Regions from separate parts of the Homo sapiens genome. Here region 1 is linked to region 2. A link means that fine-mapping ties the variant in region 2 to the expression of a gene that starts in the linked region. Tissue or cell type: whole blood. Region 2 holds a variant in brackets; the other region holds the start of a gene. All regions are shown on one strand. Distances are between the middles of the regions.

Region 1 (8,186 bases), 21 kb before region 2:
GCCTCTTCCAGTTTCTTCAACAGGTCATGCACTTTCCTGTTTCCTATTTCTGGAGTGTTCCCCCTCACTCCTGCCTGCCAGTTATCTTTCCCATCTCATCTCAAAGGTGACTTCCTCAAACAGGCCTTCCCTGAGTGGCCAACCTCCCTTTAGGCATGCTCAGAGAGATTCTTCTTCTGAGGCTTACCACAGCCATAATTAAGTAAGTGATCATCTAATGAGTATTTTAGTTTGCCTTTTTTTTTTTTTTTTTTTTTGCCAGAGGGAGTGTGGCATCTCTCTTGTACACTGCTATGTTTCCTGGAACCTGCTCAGTAACACAACCGCTAGTTCCATGAACCCAGGACCAGGCTGGATGGAAGAGGCTGTGGGGTGGTGGATTGAGAGAGGTCATTAGTGAGGGCTGGAGCCCTCTGTGAAGACATGTCTGTAAAGGACTTTGACTAGGTCCTCCATGAAGGGAGGATTTGGAAGGCAGAGATGATGAGCATTTCAGTTGGGGAATCCATTTTAACAGAGGTGGAAAGAGTCTTGGCTTGGAATCAGGGTCTCGGCCCATCTCCTGAGTGACAGGGGCTTGTAATTTACTGTCTTTGGGCCTTCATCTACTACCTGTAAAATGAGAGGCTGGTTCACCAAGGACTGCAAATAATAGCACCATGACACTATCTCCCCATCTTATCCCCTGGCAGATATCTCTCTTCCCGGTGAGCCTGAATATAAGTTCAGAATTAGCTTTAACGCAATGTTCTAAGCAGCCATTCCCAATTGATAGGAAATGATAATTGAGATAAGCCCCATTTGTCAGGCTTGACTTGGATGAAGATCCCTTAGATGAAGTCAGGCCCCGGCACTGATTCAGTGAACGTATGACAGGACAGAGCCTGGGGACGAAAGCCCTATGGAAGTAGAGACCTCAGCAGCACCAAACACCATCAACAGAAAGGACACAAAAATAGGCCGGGCACATTGGCTCATGCCTGTAATCCCAGCACTTTGGGAGGCTGACGCAGGCAGATCACTTGAGGTCAGGAGTTTGAGACCAGCCTGGTCAATATGGTGAAACCTTGTCTCTACTAAAAATACAAAAATTAGCTGGGTGTGGTGGCAGGCACCTGTAATCCCAGCTACTTGGGAGGCTGAGGCAGGAGAATTGCTTGAACCTGGGAGGCGGAGGTTGCAGTGAGCTGAGATCGCACCATTGCACTCCAGCCTAGGCAACAGAGCAAGACTCTGTCTCAAAACAAAGAAACAAACAAACAAACACCCCAGCAACAACAACAACAAAAACAAAAAGAAGGGACATGAAAATATTCTAGTCCAGAGTGGCAAACTCAGATGCCTTAAGGGACCAGTGGATGTAGATCGTGCAGATAAGAGAAGTGGTCCCAGTGGTAACATGAGAATGTTTGCCTTGCCTAAAAGGACCCCAAATCTCTCTCCTTCACATTCTTTTCTCCTTCCTCCTTATCGTATGGGTTAGGCAAAAACAAATTTCAGCTGAAATTTTCTTCCAGACAGTTGGACTGTGACCTCTGAGTCCTACCAGCTTTGTTGGAGAATCCAGATGTAGATGAGAACGGTGTTGCCTAAGGCCACACTTCAAGCCAGGCCCGTTGATTTCCAACTTATGGCTTCCTACAGCAGTGTGGTCATGAAGCCTGGAAAACAGGAAGATAGGAGTGACAAAAGAGGGACAGGAGTAGAATGAGGCTTAGGTTTTCAAAAGATGCTCATTTCATTTTGGATGACTATGGCAAGGAAGAGTGGTGGCCTGTCTACTGCTACTGTTAGTCATCACTCATGTGACTGTTTTTATGTATTCATTGGTTTAAATTCCCTGGATCTCCAGAAACATGTCACTTTCCACTGGGGGAAATTTGTGTCATGATTAAAAACACACACACACACACACACACACACACACACACCCCTCCTCCTTTCTCAGTGTTAATCACCTTCTCCTATAATTAGCACTTAAAATGTCAAAGGAGAAGAAATTAATTAACAGGAGTATCCAGTGCAGCAAGGCTCTAGGACTGATTATAAAAAGCACTTCCTTAAATATTTTGAGTGCTTTTGGGAATCAGAAGCCTCCCTTCTAATTGAAAGATCCTTAACTACACCCTAAGTCCTGGCTGGTGGCCAGGGGTGCGGGGCTGAGTGAGGCGGCGTGTGGAAATCCCTTCTTCACCATCCTTGGGAAAATTCCCTCCAAACTGGGATAGGTGGCAACAGAGGTTCGGAAACAGCAAGCGTCCCAGGCTGAATCTGCGGAGGAGGAAGAGATGAACCTTTCCTGAGCTGGTACTGCGTGCCAGGAACTTTAGCTCGGTATTTTGCCACAATCCTGTAAGACAACCGATACTATGATCTCCATTTTACAGATGAGGACATTGAGGCTCAGCGTGGTTGTGACTTCCTCAGGTCACGCAGCCACTGAATGAAAGCGCCAAAGATTCAAACTGAGGTCTGATTCTAAAGCTTTGCTCTCTCACGGCATCCTGGAATCCTATTTCAACCTTCATCTGGACTCTTAACCCAGCCCAAACCTAAGCGTCTACAGTTTTGACAGCTGAGGCGGGAGCACGGGAGGCGGAGCTGGTGGCAGCGCAGCGCCCCGCCCCGGCTCCAGCATCAGCCAATGGTGACGCGGCACCCACAGCCTTTCGCCCAATCAGCTTGAGCTTCCCGCCTCCATCCGCCGCTCTTCTCTGCCCCGCCCCTTCGCTTTCCCTTTGGTTCCACCGAGCTTGACAGAGCGGAAAGTCCCTTCGGCCGGCGCCGGGCTGGCAGCCATTGGAGGAAGGTCTGTCACAGGGAGGCCCAATCACGGCCCGCTCAGGAGCGCAGCTCGGCCTACGATTGGCTAGCGCGGCGGCTGCCCCCTCCGCCCCCGCTCCCTCCCTCTTCCCTGTGCGGTTCGGAGGCGGGGCAGGTGGGGGCGGGCCCAGGTAGCAGGTTTGGCTGCGCGGGGGCCGCGCGTCGGAGGTAAATACTAGGGCGGTGGGTGTGGGGAGCCGGGGCCGGCCCGGGACGCGGGCTGGGGAGCCGGGGCGAGGGGCGACGCCCCGCCGCCCGAGGTTAGTGAATGAGCGGGCGGCTGGCGGCCGGCGGGCGGCCGGATCCCCTCGGCGCAGCCGCCTGGCCTCAGGGCGTCCGGAGCCGCCGCGGCGACCATCGGGCCCTCGGCGCCGGCCCGTTAGTTGCCCGGGCCCGAGCCGGCCGGGCCCGCGGGTTGCCGAGCCCGCTGACGTCAGCCCGGGTTTCCCCCCCCCACCGGGGCTTCCCCATCCCCCGAGGCTTCCCGGGAGGGCTGCGAGTCCGGGGAGCGTGCGGGGTCGCCACCATCGGGACCCCCAGAGGAGAGAGGACTTGGGGCGGGAGCCGCGCGGGACGCTGTCCCCCTCCCGCCCCCCACCCCATTTACAGATTGGGAGACTGAGGCACAGGCCGCTGGCGGGCCCCGACGGCCACGGTTGGCCTCAGGAGCCCGGGGCTGTGATTCCTACCGACCGCGCCGCGGGGCGTACGTACCGATCGATTTTGCGGGTGTTGGTGGCTCCCGTCCAGGAATGGCAGTCGGGGTTCTGGCCTTGTTAATGGCGTGTTCTGCTTTTTCTTTCAGTTTCCCCCTTTCTAGGGTGAGGATGGTTCTACACAGCCACCCGGAGTTCCTTAGTTGAAAGGTGCGCCCTGCTGTGACAGGTATTCTTTCTTTATGTTTTTCTTTCATGTTAACAATCGAGGGGGGTGGGGGGCGAATGGGGGGCGGGGGCGAAGTCATGAAATCTTCAGGAGATGGTGTTGAGTTTGGTACTCAGCTGGGTCAGCTGCCGGTTATTCATGTACTTGGCATCGTTTCTCTTCCACCCCTTGGCATTTGAATGTTTTAGGATAGTTGTCATCTTCCAGCCACCAAGCCTGTGGCCTTGCAGTCTCCCAGCCCCCATCATCCCTGCCACCTTCTTCTCCTCAATTTTTCCTGGAAAGTTTTATCCTTAGCTCAGCTAAGGAGCATGCCTACCTTGCTTTTGAATTCGGGCTAATTAGGGATCTTAATAAGATTGTTCATTTTGCAATCATTGGCTCTCAGAGAAGCACCCAGGCCTTGAGAGGGTGTTCGTTTGATTGTTGGCTTTCTACACACCCCCTCACGCCCCAAGTAGACTGAATGGCCTTAAGAATTTAGCCTCCCATTCCCCACTGAGCAGTAGGTGGATTTGAACTAGAACAGTATTAGGAGAAAATGATTTGCTGGAAATTCTTATTGAAGTAACACCCAGAACATTCTCTAATATTCTGCTGCAAAATTGTATAGTATTCTTGCAAATAAACCTTCCTCTGGGTGGTAACTTTTGTGAGAAGCAGATAAGGCTTGTTATATAAAGCACAACTAACATTAAGCAGCAATGATTTTTATAGTCTGGCACACCTAAACTGTGGTTTTGTTTGATTTAAGGAAGTCTCCAACACAGGGAGAGAGAAAGGAATAGTTATGTTGTTTATCAAACTATTAGTATTTTGTTCCTGATTTTCACACTATGATTTAAATTAGTTTTTTTTTCATTGGTTGTACAGAATTTATAAGCATCATACATGCTAGTTGAGGCTGTAGGAAGCTAGTATCAAATAAACCTCAAAACAACTTGGTTTCGTAATTGTGAAATTTTCCGTATTTGTTTCTTCTTATATGTATAACAATGAAGTGGTTTAGCATGATTTCATTTTATCTAGAGAATTACTGAAGTTTTAGGCAAAATTCATTAAATACTCCCAATTCCTGAGTCTTTTTCTCTTCTCTTTCTCTTGGTTTAATCCCTTAAACAGGAGGAGGAAATGCAATTTTGTTTTCACTGTTACCACTTGAGTCTTTCATTCATTTCTCTGTATTCAGTGCCTAGCATATGCCAGGCTCTCGTGTGGGCACTGGATAATATAAAAATGAAGGACTTGGGGAATTCACAGTTTGGCAGTGGAGTGGCTAGGTTTAACACTAGAGAGGCAGCAGTATTCCTTGTTCCAGTGGGAATATGCAGATGTGAGAGGCTCTTCTTTTCTTTTTTTTTTTTAACCTTATAAATCCCACTTGTATTAGGGACTGTGTACTTGTGACACAAATTAGTCATTGAGGAAAATTAAAACGGACTCAGTCTTTTTTCTGGCCACGGAATCTCTGTATCTCTATTCTTTAGCTGTTTAGAAATATAACAACTTTGTCTTTTAGTGAGAGATGTTCTCTTTTAAAAGGATGATCATTCTAGCTATCCAGAAGCTTTTGGAAAAAGGCCCACATGTCTTCTTTCTTTGGTGTTCAAGCTGACCTTCCTACCTCTTTGCCATTTATAATTAGGGGCAGAATTAAGTATTGTAAGTTTTATTCTAATTTAAATAGCTTCCTGTGGTTTTTAGAACAAGCAGGATATCTTTGGAGATGCAAAAAGCTCTTGAATTGGATCTGTCTTTGTGAGATCCTTATGAACAATATAACCTGATAACTTGAGAATCAGAAAAACACTGCATCTTCTGGATAAGTTAACCATTGTTAGTTTTCTGTAGCTACTGATGTTCATTTGTACTATATGTTGCCTTTCAGAATGTGGTAATTGTAATCTTTAACATTTTCATGTAAAACATATTTCCTGATCATCTTTCCATTGTCTTCATGGAAAATTGATAAATATTTGTGCCTTCCAACTCTCGTCTTGGTTGAATGACTTCATCTTAATACAAGTAAGTTCCCCTTTACTCAGAATCCAGACCATCAACAAGCTCAGATAACCAGAAATGTTTTCAAATCTATGTGAACCTGAACTGTTCTCCTTCATCAGCGTCCTTAAAGGAAAGGCCTTCTGTTCAACATGGCTTTAGGGTTAAACATATTATTGTGTTTCAACTCGTTGGTAATTTTCATTCAGTATTTATTACCAAGATATTCATAATCACACAGTTATCCAGCCTGAAGTAAGATAGTATTTAGATGAGTCATTTGTGATATACTCACTCAAAGTGATTCAACCTGCAAAATAATAAGAGAATACAAGTGAAAATTTCTCCCTTCACACTGACCCCTCACCCCCACCTGCCCTACGGTGACTTTGAATTTAGCTGTGCTTCTTTTTCCTTCAGTTGTCTTACTGTTCCCTAGGCCTTTACTTAAAGGCAGAAGCTGAGTGAATGTGGATTGATGTTGGGTTTTTTTTTGTGTGTGTTCTCTCTTTCCTCTTTGTTTTTTTTTTTTTTTTTTTTTTTGAGACCAGGTCTTGCTCTGTCACCCAGGCTGGAGTACAGTGGTGTGATCATAGCTCTCTTCAGCCTGGACCTCCTGGGCTCTAGCGATCTTCCCATCCTCCAGAGTAGCTGGGACCCTGAGTAGCTGGGCCCACAGGCAGACACCACCACACCCGGCTAATTTTCTTTTCTTTTTTTTTCTTCCTTTTGGGACAGGCTCTCATTCTGTCACCCAGGCAGGAGTGCGGTAGTGCTATCACAGCTCACTAAAGCCTTGAACTCCAGGGCTTAGGGGATCCTCCCACTTCAGCCTCCAAAGTGCTGGGATTACAGGAGTGAGCCACTGTGCCTAGCCTAGATGATGTAGTTTTCAGTATCTAACTCTGTACTGAAAGCGTAAAAAATACCAAACTAACAAACCAACCTTCTTGATGATAAATAACTCATTTACAATGTGATTTAGATCTTTCCCTTCATATTGTGTTGAGTCAGTTTTTACTGCTTGGGGTACCTAAGACTTTAACTATTTAACTACTATGCACATCCCAGTGAAAGTAGACTGTTGGTGTTATATTCACTTCTACAGTGGGGAGAAATGTATGTTAGCATATTTTTATTGCAATACTGGTATTTTGAGTACATAAAATAAATATATATATATAATGGAGTGTGTATATATGTGAGAGAGTGTGTGACAGGGTCTTGCTTTTTCACCCAGGCTGAAGTGCGGTGGCGTGATCATGGCTTGCTGCAGTCCCTCCCTCCAGGGCTCAAGCCATCCTCCCACCTCAGCCTCACAAGTAGCTGGGACTACAGGCACATGCCATCACACCTGGCTAACTTTTGTACTTTTTGTAGAAATGAGGTTTCACTGTGTTGCACAGGCTGGTCTCAAACTCCTGGGCTCAAGCTGTCCACTCACCTTGGCTTCCCAAAGTGTTGGGATTACAGGCGTGAGTCACTGTGCCTGGCCGAGAATATTAGTGATCATTCAGTTGATTGCCTTGTATATCTCTAGACTCGAGCCGTAAAGTTTCCCATTCAACTTTCTCTATCAGTTGCAGTGAAGAGAATCAATTTTTAATAAGAGAGTTTCAAACTTGTTCTTAATATATTCTTTCTGAAAGAGGAAAGGCTGTATCCTTTATTTTTGGATAATGCTTTTGAAATATTTGATAACTTGTGCTTGACTATTTTAGTTGTCTAACATGACCCATCCTATTGCTAAGTCTAAGCTCATTTCCACTTGTGCTAATGAAAGTTAGGAAAAAAGTTACCACTCCTTGTAGAGTTCACTTTAAAATATGGTACTTGAAAGCTATAGTTTATTACCCTAAAACATTTTTATAAACCTAGCAGTTATATCAATTTTTACTGTGGATTCTCTTCCTTAAATTATTTCAGAAAGCAAGCTTATAATCAAATTTATTTAACATAATGTCCTAATGCACATATAGTAATTTAGTTTTGTCTTAATAATAGATTATTAGCATTAATGATTTTTATTTTAAATTGTGACATGAATAGTTAAGCTACAGGACCAATAGAGTAGGAGCTGTTGGTATAAAGCAATTATTAAGATTCAGGGAAGTTTCTGATTGTAATATTTGAAGACATTGTTCTTAGGAATTTTAAAAAAGAATTTCTTTTCAAAATAGAATTACTTTACCTTTTTCAAAAAAATTTTGGCCCTAAAAATCTAAATACATTTTAAAGAGAACCAAAACAACAGCTCGTTTTTTTGAAAGTTGCTTTTTGACTGTCTTAACCTTCTGCTAGTGACCAGACTCTCTATTCAATAAAGCCTATGTGCCCTTTGCTCCTAAAGACCCTTTCAGAATGTATGCATTCCTCTTTTCACGATTGTTGCTTTGTGTTTTCAAACACACAAACATATTTCACTACCTGGCTTCTCAGAACTGATTCGAAGCGATAAGTTGGAAAGCAACAAGGCC
Region 2 (8,186 bases):
AGCATCCTTATGCATATCATCTAGATCCTACAATCAACATCTTACTTGCTTTATATGTATCTGTCCACCTCTCTATTCACGTACTTATCCGTCACGTTTTCTTGTGCATTTCACATTAAGTTGCAGATACCAGTTCACTTCCTCCTAAATACTTCAGTGTGCATCTAATTAACTAGAGATAAGTATTTAGGGTTTTCTTTTTCATTTCAGATAGAAGTCACACATATAATGACATACATATGGATTTATTTGGGTTCTAACTAATATATATATACCCTTGAATTAGAAACCTCTATCAAGTTATTAAAACAATTTTAAGAAGAAATCATTCATGTATCTCAAATCAAAATTAAAAAGTACAATAAAATATCTCATTTCCATTTTTATCCCCTCTGCCTCAGTTGCCTGCTTACTCCATCCTTCGTTTCTCACTAGTCACAGTTTTTATGAATTTCTTATATATCTTTCCAGTGTTTCTTTATACAATATAAATATTCTTATTCCCCCTTCCCTTTTAATTCAAGAAGTGTAGTAGATACACTATTCTGCTGTTTGCTTTATTCTCTTAATTTTATATGTTAGAACTCTTTGTATATTTGCAAACAGAGGTTCTTGTTTTTTATAGTGTATAATTTTCCATTGTACGGAAAAAAATTTCATAATTTATTTAACCAGTTTCCTATCAATGGACATTTGGGTTGTTTCTGACTTTTTGATATTGCACACAATGTTACCGTAACCTGTACATGTCTGTTTCCCACATGTGCTAGCATATCTGGAGGATATATATATTCCCAGAAGTGGAGTTGCTTGATGAAAGGGCGTATGCGTTGGTATTGTTCTGGATATTGTTAATTGCCTTCAGTCGTAGATATAACAATTTATATTCCTGCCAGTAGAATACAAGGGGGAACTTATAGCTTTCCCATGAGAGTGTGTTACTAACTTTTTTCCCAATCTGATAGATAAAAAATATATTTCAGTGTATATAATACATTTGCAAATAGAAATTTGCATTTCTCTGAGTGATGTTGAACATTTTTGCATATGATTAAGGGCAATTTTTCTTTCTGTGAACTGTTTGCATCTGTTGCCTATTTTTAAATTGGGTTAGGTTATTGGCCTTTTTTCTCACTGATTTCTTCATGTGTTAGGGTGGCAAACTCTTCTGTGATGCGAGATGCAAATGTTGCCCACTCTTCCACCCTCATTTGTCATTTGTCTTTTTTTAAAATTGCTTATTTTTCTGGTCACCCTCATTTGTTTTTATTGTGGTAAAATATACCTAACAGGATGTACCATTTTAACAATTTTTAAGTGTATAATTCAGTGTAAGTATGTTTACAGTTGTGCAACCATCACCACTATCTATTTCCAGAAATCTTGTTCATTATCCCAAATAGAAACTCTATACTCATGAAGAGATAGCTGCCGGTTCCTCTTTCCCTCCAGCCTCTGCTCATCTCTGTTCTCTGCTCTCTGTCCTTATGACTTTGCTTACTCTGGGTATCTCATATTAGTGGAATCATACATATGTCCTTTGGAGCTGGTGCATTTCACTTGGTGTGATGTTTTTGACTTTGGTGCTTTTTGCCTTGCAGGATTTATAAAATTTTTATGCTGTTGTATTCTTTTAGTTTTAATAGATTCTGGATTTTGAGTTACTGTAAGGTTATAAAGGAATTTCCCTGTGTTTTCTTCTAGTACTCTGTGGTTTTAGTACATATCTCTATATCTATCTATCTATCTATCTATCTATCTATATCTTTGACCCATTTCTGTTTTATGTGGTATATGATGTGAAATATAAATCCAATCTAGTTTTTATTTTTGCCCACAGGTAGAAGATACCCTGTTGTCTTAGTATCATTTATTAAAAAGTCCCTCTTTACTGGTTTGAGAGGCCACTTTCATCATACTAAATTTCCACGTGTAGCGTGGTATATTTCTGGACTTTCTATTCTGTCTTCCCACGTTTCAATACCACATTGTTCTTAATGATTTTTAAAAAATTGTATATATTCATGGGGTACAAGTGTAATTGTGCTACACTACTGTATTGCATTGTGGTGAGGTCAGGGCCTTCAGCACATCCATCACTGGAGCAATGCACATTATACCCACCAAGCAACCTCCCATCATCCACCCCCCGCCACCCCAAGCCCCCTTTATTCATCTTTCCACACTCTGCTTCCACGTGTGATTCTTTATGTGTTTTAATATTATTAACACTAGTCTCCTCTCACTGTTCTTTTGAATTTTCCTGTTCTATACTGTTTTCAAAATAGTAGTCTTCTTGATAGTTTTGCGTTTTTACATTTAAGTGTGTTATTCACTTAGATTTGGTTTTGAACAGGATATGAAATATGGGTACAGATATCCAATTTGACCTTCCATGCTTGCTGCGTATAAATCAAGTTTCCAGATGTACACGTGTGGATCTTTCTGAGCCCTGTCATTTCCCTACACTAAAGCCTATCCATAGCTTTAGAAGTCTTGGTAGCTGTGAGAGTACATTTCCATTGTTTGTTTTCTTAATGAATGTCTTGGCTATTGTTAGCCTTTGGGCTTCATTGTAAGTTTAACTATCAGCTTCTCAAATACTATAAGAGAGTTCTGTTAGGATTTTGGAATTGCAATTAATCTGTAGAACAATTGGAGGAGAATTGACATTTCTATGATATTAAAACTTCTAATATATAAACCTTGTGTATCCTTTCATTTATTTAATTTCCTTTTGGTAAAATTTTATAATTTTCTCCATGAAGAGCTTACTTGCATTTTGATGCATTATAAAGCATATTTTCTAACAGTGTCATGCTGATGTAGAAATACAATTGACTTTTTTTTTAGAAAACAGCTTTACTGAGATCTAGTTTATAATTCACTCAGAGTGTACAAATCAGTGCATTTTAGTGCATTTACAGACATGTGCAATTGTCAAGATAATTTTAGAACATTTTCATCACCTCTAAAAGAAACGCTGCACCCCTTAGTGATCATCTCCCAAACCCTTCATCCTTGTTTAGTCCTAAGCAACTACCAGTCTACTTCTGTCTCTGCATATTTGCCTTTTCTGGACATTTCATTTAAATGGAATCACATTATATGTGGTCTTTTGTGATTTACTTTTTTCACTTAGCATAATGTTTTCAAGGTTCCTCCATGTTGTAGCATGTGCCAGAATTTCCGTCCTTCTTAAGGCAGAATAATATTCCATTGTATGGACACATCACATGTTGTTTATTAATCAGTAGATAGATATTTAGGTTTTTTTTTCACCTTTTGGCTAAAATGAATAATGCTGCTACAAACATGCATGTACAAGTTGTTGTGTGGACATATGCTTTTGTTTCTCTTGGGTTTATATCTAGGAGTGGAATTGCTGAGTCATATGATAACTCTATGTTTAACCATTTGTGGAACTGCCAGACTGTTTCCCAAAGCAGCCACACCATTTTACATTCCTACTAGCAGTGTGTAAGCGTTTTGGTTTCTTCATGTCCTTGTCAATACTTGTTATTATCTGACTTTTTTATTCTAGCCATCCTAGTGGGAATGAAGTCATTTTCAATTGACTTTCGTGTGCTGATTTTTCTTACAAACAGACTTACTAAAATATCTTATTCACAATCCATGGATTACTTATAAAATATTCAGTCATTATAGTTTGCACATAATAACAGTTTTGCCTCTTCTGAATTCTTTTATTTTTAAAAATGGTTTCTTACTGTCCTAGCTAGGACCTCTAAATACAATATTGAATAGAAGTAGTGATGGAAGGCATCTTGGCCTTTTTTTCTGATCTTAAAGAAAATGCTTTCAACATTTCATTATTAAATGTGATGTTTGCTATAGAGTTTTATTGTTGTATCTGTCATTTATCAGGTTAGAGAAGTTACCTACTGTTCCTAGTTTTCTAACAGTTTTATCATGAATTGATGTTGAATTTTATCAACCCCTTTTTCTCTATTGAGATAATCCTATTTTCTTTTAATCTGCTAATTTTCTTATATTGAATCAACCTTACATCCATGATGTAAACCCAACCTCCTCATGATTCATACTTTGCTTGGTCCAGTTTGCTAGTATTTGCATCCTGTTTTTAAAATCTCTGTTTATAAGAGATATTGGCCTATACTTTTTCCCTTTTAGCTGTCCTTGTCTGGTTTTGGAATCAAAGTCGTGCTTGTCTCATAAAGTACCTGGGAAAGGTTTCTTTTATTTTGTTATTTGAAAGAGTTTATGTGAGATTAGAATTACCTATTCCTTGACTATTTGACAAAGCTTCTTTTTGTGGAAATGTTTAGCTACTGATGAAATATCCTTTAACATTTGTTTGTTTTTGATTGTCTTTTGCAAGTTTTATTTTTTATGAATGTATCCATTTAATTCATTTTCAAAGCTTTGGGCATAATGTTGTTTATAAAAGCCTCTTAATTTTCTGTTCAACCTCAGCAGCATCTGCCCTTGTGTTCCTATTTTCATCCAAAATGTTAATCATTTGTGCTTTCTTATATTCTTCACCAATCTTACCAGTGGTTTCTGACTTTCATTTTTTCAAAGGACCAACTTTTGGCTTTCTTAATTCTTTCTAGATATACTTGTTATTGTTTAAAATATGCTACTATTTTTACTGTGTAACTAGTGCATTTTTTAGGTCTAAGCCCGTAGTTCTCAGCCTGGGATGCTTTTGTCTCCTGGGGACATTTGGCAGTGTCTGGAGATTTTTGATTGCCACATCTGAGGTGAGAGTACTACTGGCCTCTAATGCATGGAGACCAGTGATGCTTCTAAACTTCCTACAGTGCACAGGGCAGCCCTACACAACACAGAATTATCTGGTTCAGAACCTTAGTAGAACTGAGCTTGAGACACTGTGTCCTAAGCAAATTCTAGGAGTTATGCTCATTTTATAATGTTAACTTGCTGGATAGCTATGGGGGAATCACTTGAAAAACAAATTTTCTTTCATTATTTATGTATTCTTGCAGGGATAACCA[A/G]TTCTATGCTAATATTGTTTTTCCCAGAGTAACATGGCTAAATGTAATTTCACTTGTCTTACGAAATCAAATACAGGCATACCTAATTTTATAGCGCTTTTCTTTATTGTGCTTCACAGATATGTGTTTTTTATTAATTGAAGGTTTGTGGCAATTCTGCTTTGGGCAAGTCTGTCAATGCCATTTTTCCAATAGCATGTGCACACTTCGTGTCTCTGTGTCACATTTTGGTAATTCCTGCAATATTTCAAACTTTTTCATTATTATTATATCTGTTATGGTGATCTGTAATCAATGATCTTTGAGGTGACTATTGAAATTGTTTTAAGGCACCACAAACCACACCCATATAAGATGACAAACTCCACTGATAAATGTTGTGTGTATTCTGACTGCTCCACTGACTAGTGGGGCCTCTGTCTCTCTCACTCCTTGGGCCTCCCTATTTCCTGATACCCAAAAATATTAAAATTAGGCCAAGTCATAATCCTACAATGGCCTCTAAGTGTTCCAGTGAAAGAGAGAGTTGCATATCTCTCACTTTAAATCAAAAGCTAGAAATGATTAAGCTTAGTGAGGAAGGTATGTTGAAAACCGAGAGAGACTGAAAACTAGGCCTCTTGTGCCAAAGTTAGCTAAGTTGTGAATGCAAAGGAATATTTCCTGAAGGAAATTAAAAGTGCTACTTTAGTGAACACATGAATGATAAAAAAGCAAAACAGCCTTATTGCTGATATGGAGAAAGGTTTAGTTATCTGGATAGAAGATCAAACCAGCACATTCCCTTAAGCCAAAGCCTAATCCAGAGCAAGGCCCTAACTCTCTTCAATTCTGAAAGGCTGAGAGAGGTAAGAAAGCTGCAGAAGAAAAGTTGGAAGCTCGCACAGGTTGGTTCATAAACTTTAAGGAAAGATGTCATCACCATAACAGAAAAGTGCAAGATGAAGCAGCAAGTGCTGATATAGAAACTGCTGCAAGTTATCAGAAGATCTAGCTAAGTTAATTGATGAAAGTGGCTACATTAAATAAAAGATTTTCAGTGTAGGCAAAACAGCCTTCTATTGGAAGAAGATACCATCTAAGACTTTCATAGCTGAGATGAGTAGTCAATGCCTGGCTTCAAAGCTTCAAAGGATAGGCTGACTCTTTTGTTAGGGGTTAATGCAGTTGGTGACTTTAAGTTGAAGCCAGGATTCTGAAAATCCCAAAATCCTTAAGAATTATGCTAAATCTACTCTGCCTGTGCTCTATAAATGGAACAACAAAGACTGGATGACAACACATGTGTTTATAGCATGCTTAACTGAATATTTTAAGTCTACTGTTGAGACCTACTGCTCAGAAAAAGGATTCCTTTCAAAACATTACTGTTCATTGATGATGCAACTGGTCACTCAAAAGCTTTGATGGAGATGCACAAGGAGATTAATGTTGTTTTCATGCTTGCTAGCACAATAACTGTTCTGCAGCATATGGATCAAGGAGTAATTTCTATTTGCAAGTTTTATTTAAGAAATACATTCTGTAAGGCTGCCATAGATCAGGATTCCTCTGACAGACTGGGCAAAGTCAATTGAAAACTGTCTGAAAAGGATTCACCATTCTAGATGCCATCAAGAACATTCATGATTTATGGGAGGAGGTCAAAATATCAACATTAACAGGAGTTTGGGAGAAGTTGATTCCAACCCTCATGGATGACTTTGAGGGACTGAAGATTTCAGTGGAAAAAATAACTGTAGATGTGGTGGAAGTAGCAAAAGAGCTAGAACTAGAGGTGGAGCCTGAAAATGTACTTGACTGAATTGCTATAATCTCATGATCAAACTTGAGCGGATGAAGAAAGGAAAAGTGGTTCATTGAGATGACATCAACTCCTGGTGAGGATATTGTGAACATCGTTGAGATGACAACAAAGGATTTAGAATATTCCATAAACTTAGTAAAGAAGCAGCAGGGCTTGGGAGAGGATTAACTCCAGTTTTGAAAGAACTTCTATTGTGAGTAAAATGCTATCAAGCAGTATCACATGCTACAGAGAAATCTTTTATGAAAGAAAGAGCCAACTTCATTGTTGTCTTATTTTAGGAAATTGCCACGGTCACTCCAACTTTCAGCAACCATCACCGTGATCAGTCAGCACCCATCCACACTGAGGCAAGAGCCTCCACCAGCAAAAAGACTATGACTCCTTGAAGGCTCAGATAATCATTAACATTTTTTAGCAATGAAATATTTTTAAAATTAAGGTATATACATTATTTTCAATAACATAATGGTATTGCACACGTAATGGACTACAGTATAGTGTAAACATAGCTTTCATATGCACTGGGAAACAAAAACACTTGTGTGACTTGCTTTATTGTGATATTTGCTTTATTGTGGTGGTCTGGAACAGAACCTACAATATCTCCAGGGTGTGCCTGTGTGGGTTTGTGGGTTTCAATTTTTTTTTTTTTTAATTTCCATAGAGTACTTTTGAAAGCTCAAAAAATAATTAAAAAAAAAAGCATTTTAGATTGAAAGTAACCGTTCTCTTTACCTACCTTAATTGCATTTCTTTGAATTTTACATTTTACAACTGAATGCAATTCATTATACTGAATAAGTTAGGAGACTAGGGAAATCATTAGTTTAGTATTATAATTTAAGATTGAGATACCTGAACTATGAAGTTGGCTTATGTATAATTGATTGTTTTTCTCAGTTGGCTGTAGAATAAATACTTGAAGTGCTTTCTCCCACACACACACTCTAGAGCTGTATTTCCTTCTGTCTATTTTTTCCACATCTCAATTTGGTTTGAAATGTAAATTATCTTGGGTTCTACAGTAGCACTTAAAAAGCAAAGCAAAGAAAAAAACCACCCTTTCTATTTTTCCTGGAATATAACCTGACAAGGAATTCTTCATTAGTAGTATTTATCTTAAAAACATTTACGGTTTTGTTTTATTAAAATATTGGTGGAGGATTGAGATAATTAAAATTAGTTACATGAATATCTTGGGCGTCACTTGTCAGGCACACTTTGATCTTCTAAATCAGTAGTTATCATTGTCATTATTGCTGGCTCAGAGCAGTGAAGAGAAAGAAAAAGAATGATATTTTTTTTTCTTTTAAAGCTTGATTTTCATAAACCCTCAATAGGAGATAATTAAGAATGATACCAGCATTTATAAC

What was found. PIP is the estimated chance that this variant, and not a neighbour inherited with it, causes the effect.
Region 1: CYLD-AS1 starts here. The variant in region 2 is fine-mapped to the expression of CYLD-AS1 in whole blood (INTERVAL, PIP 0.96).

The regions. Positions count from the first base shown.
Region 1 is chr16:50,739,134-50,747,319 of GRCh38, forward strand. CYLD-AS1 (CYLD antisense RNA 1) reads right to left here and starts at 3,614. Exons shown (of 7, transcript NR_184279.1): 1 at 3,538-3,614; 2 at 2,195-2,271; 3 at 1,547-1,661. CYLD (CYLD lysine 63 deubiquitinase) reads left to right here and starts at 2,953. Exons shown (of 19, transcript NM_001378743.1): 1 at 2,953-2,991; 2 at 3,629-3,708. MIR3181 (microRNA 3181) reads left to right here and starts at 3,172; the gene lies at 3,172-3,244. RefSeq lists a silencer at 2,768-3,367 and an enhancer at 3,608-3,707.
Region 2 is chr16:50,760,015-50,768,200 of GRCh38, forward strand. The region is part of intron 5 of CYLD (CYLD lysine 63 deubiquitinase); the gene reads left to right. Among named protein-coding and RNA genes, the nearest start is that of CYLD-AS1, 21 kb to the left of the region's middle. The variant A/G (reference allele first, on the strand shown) is at 5,004.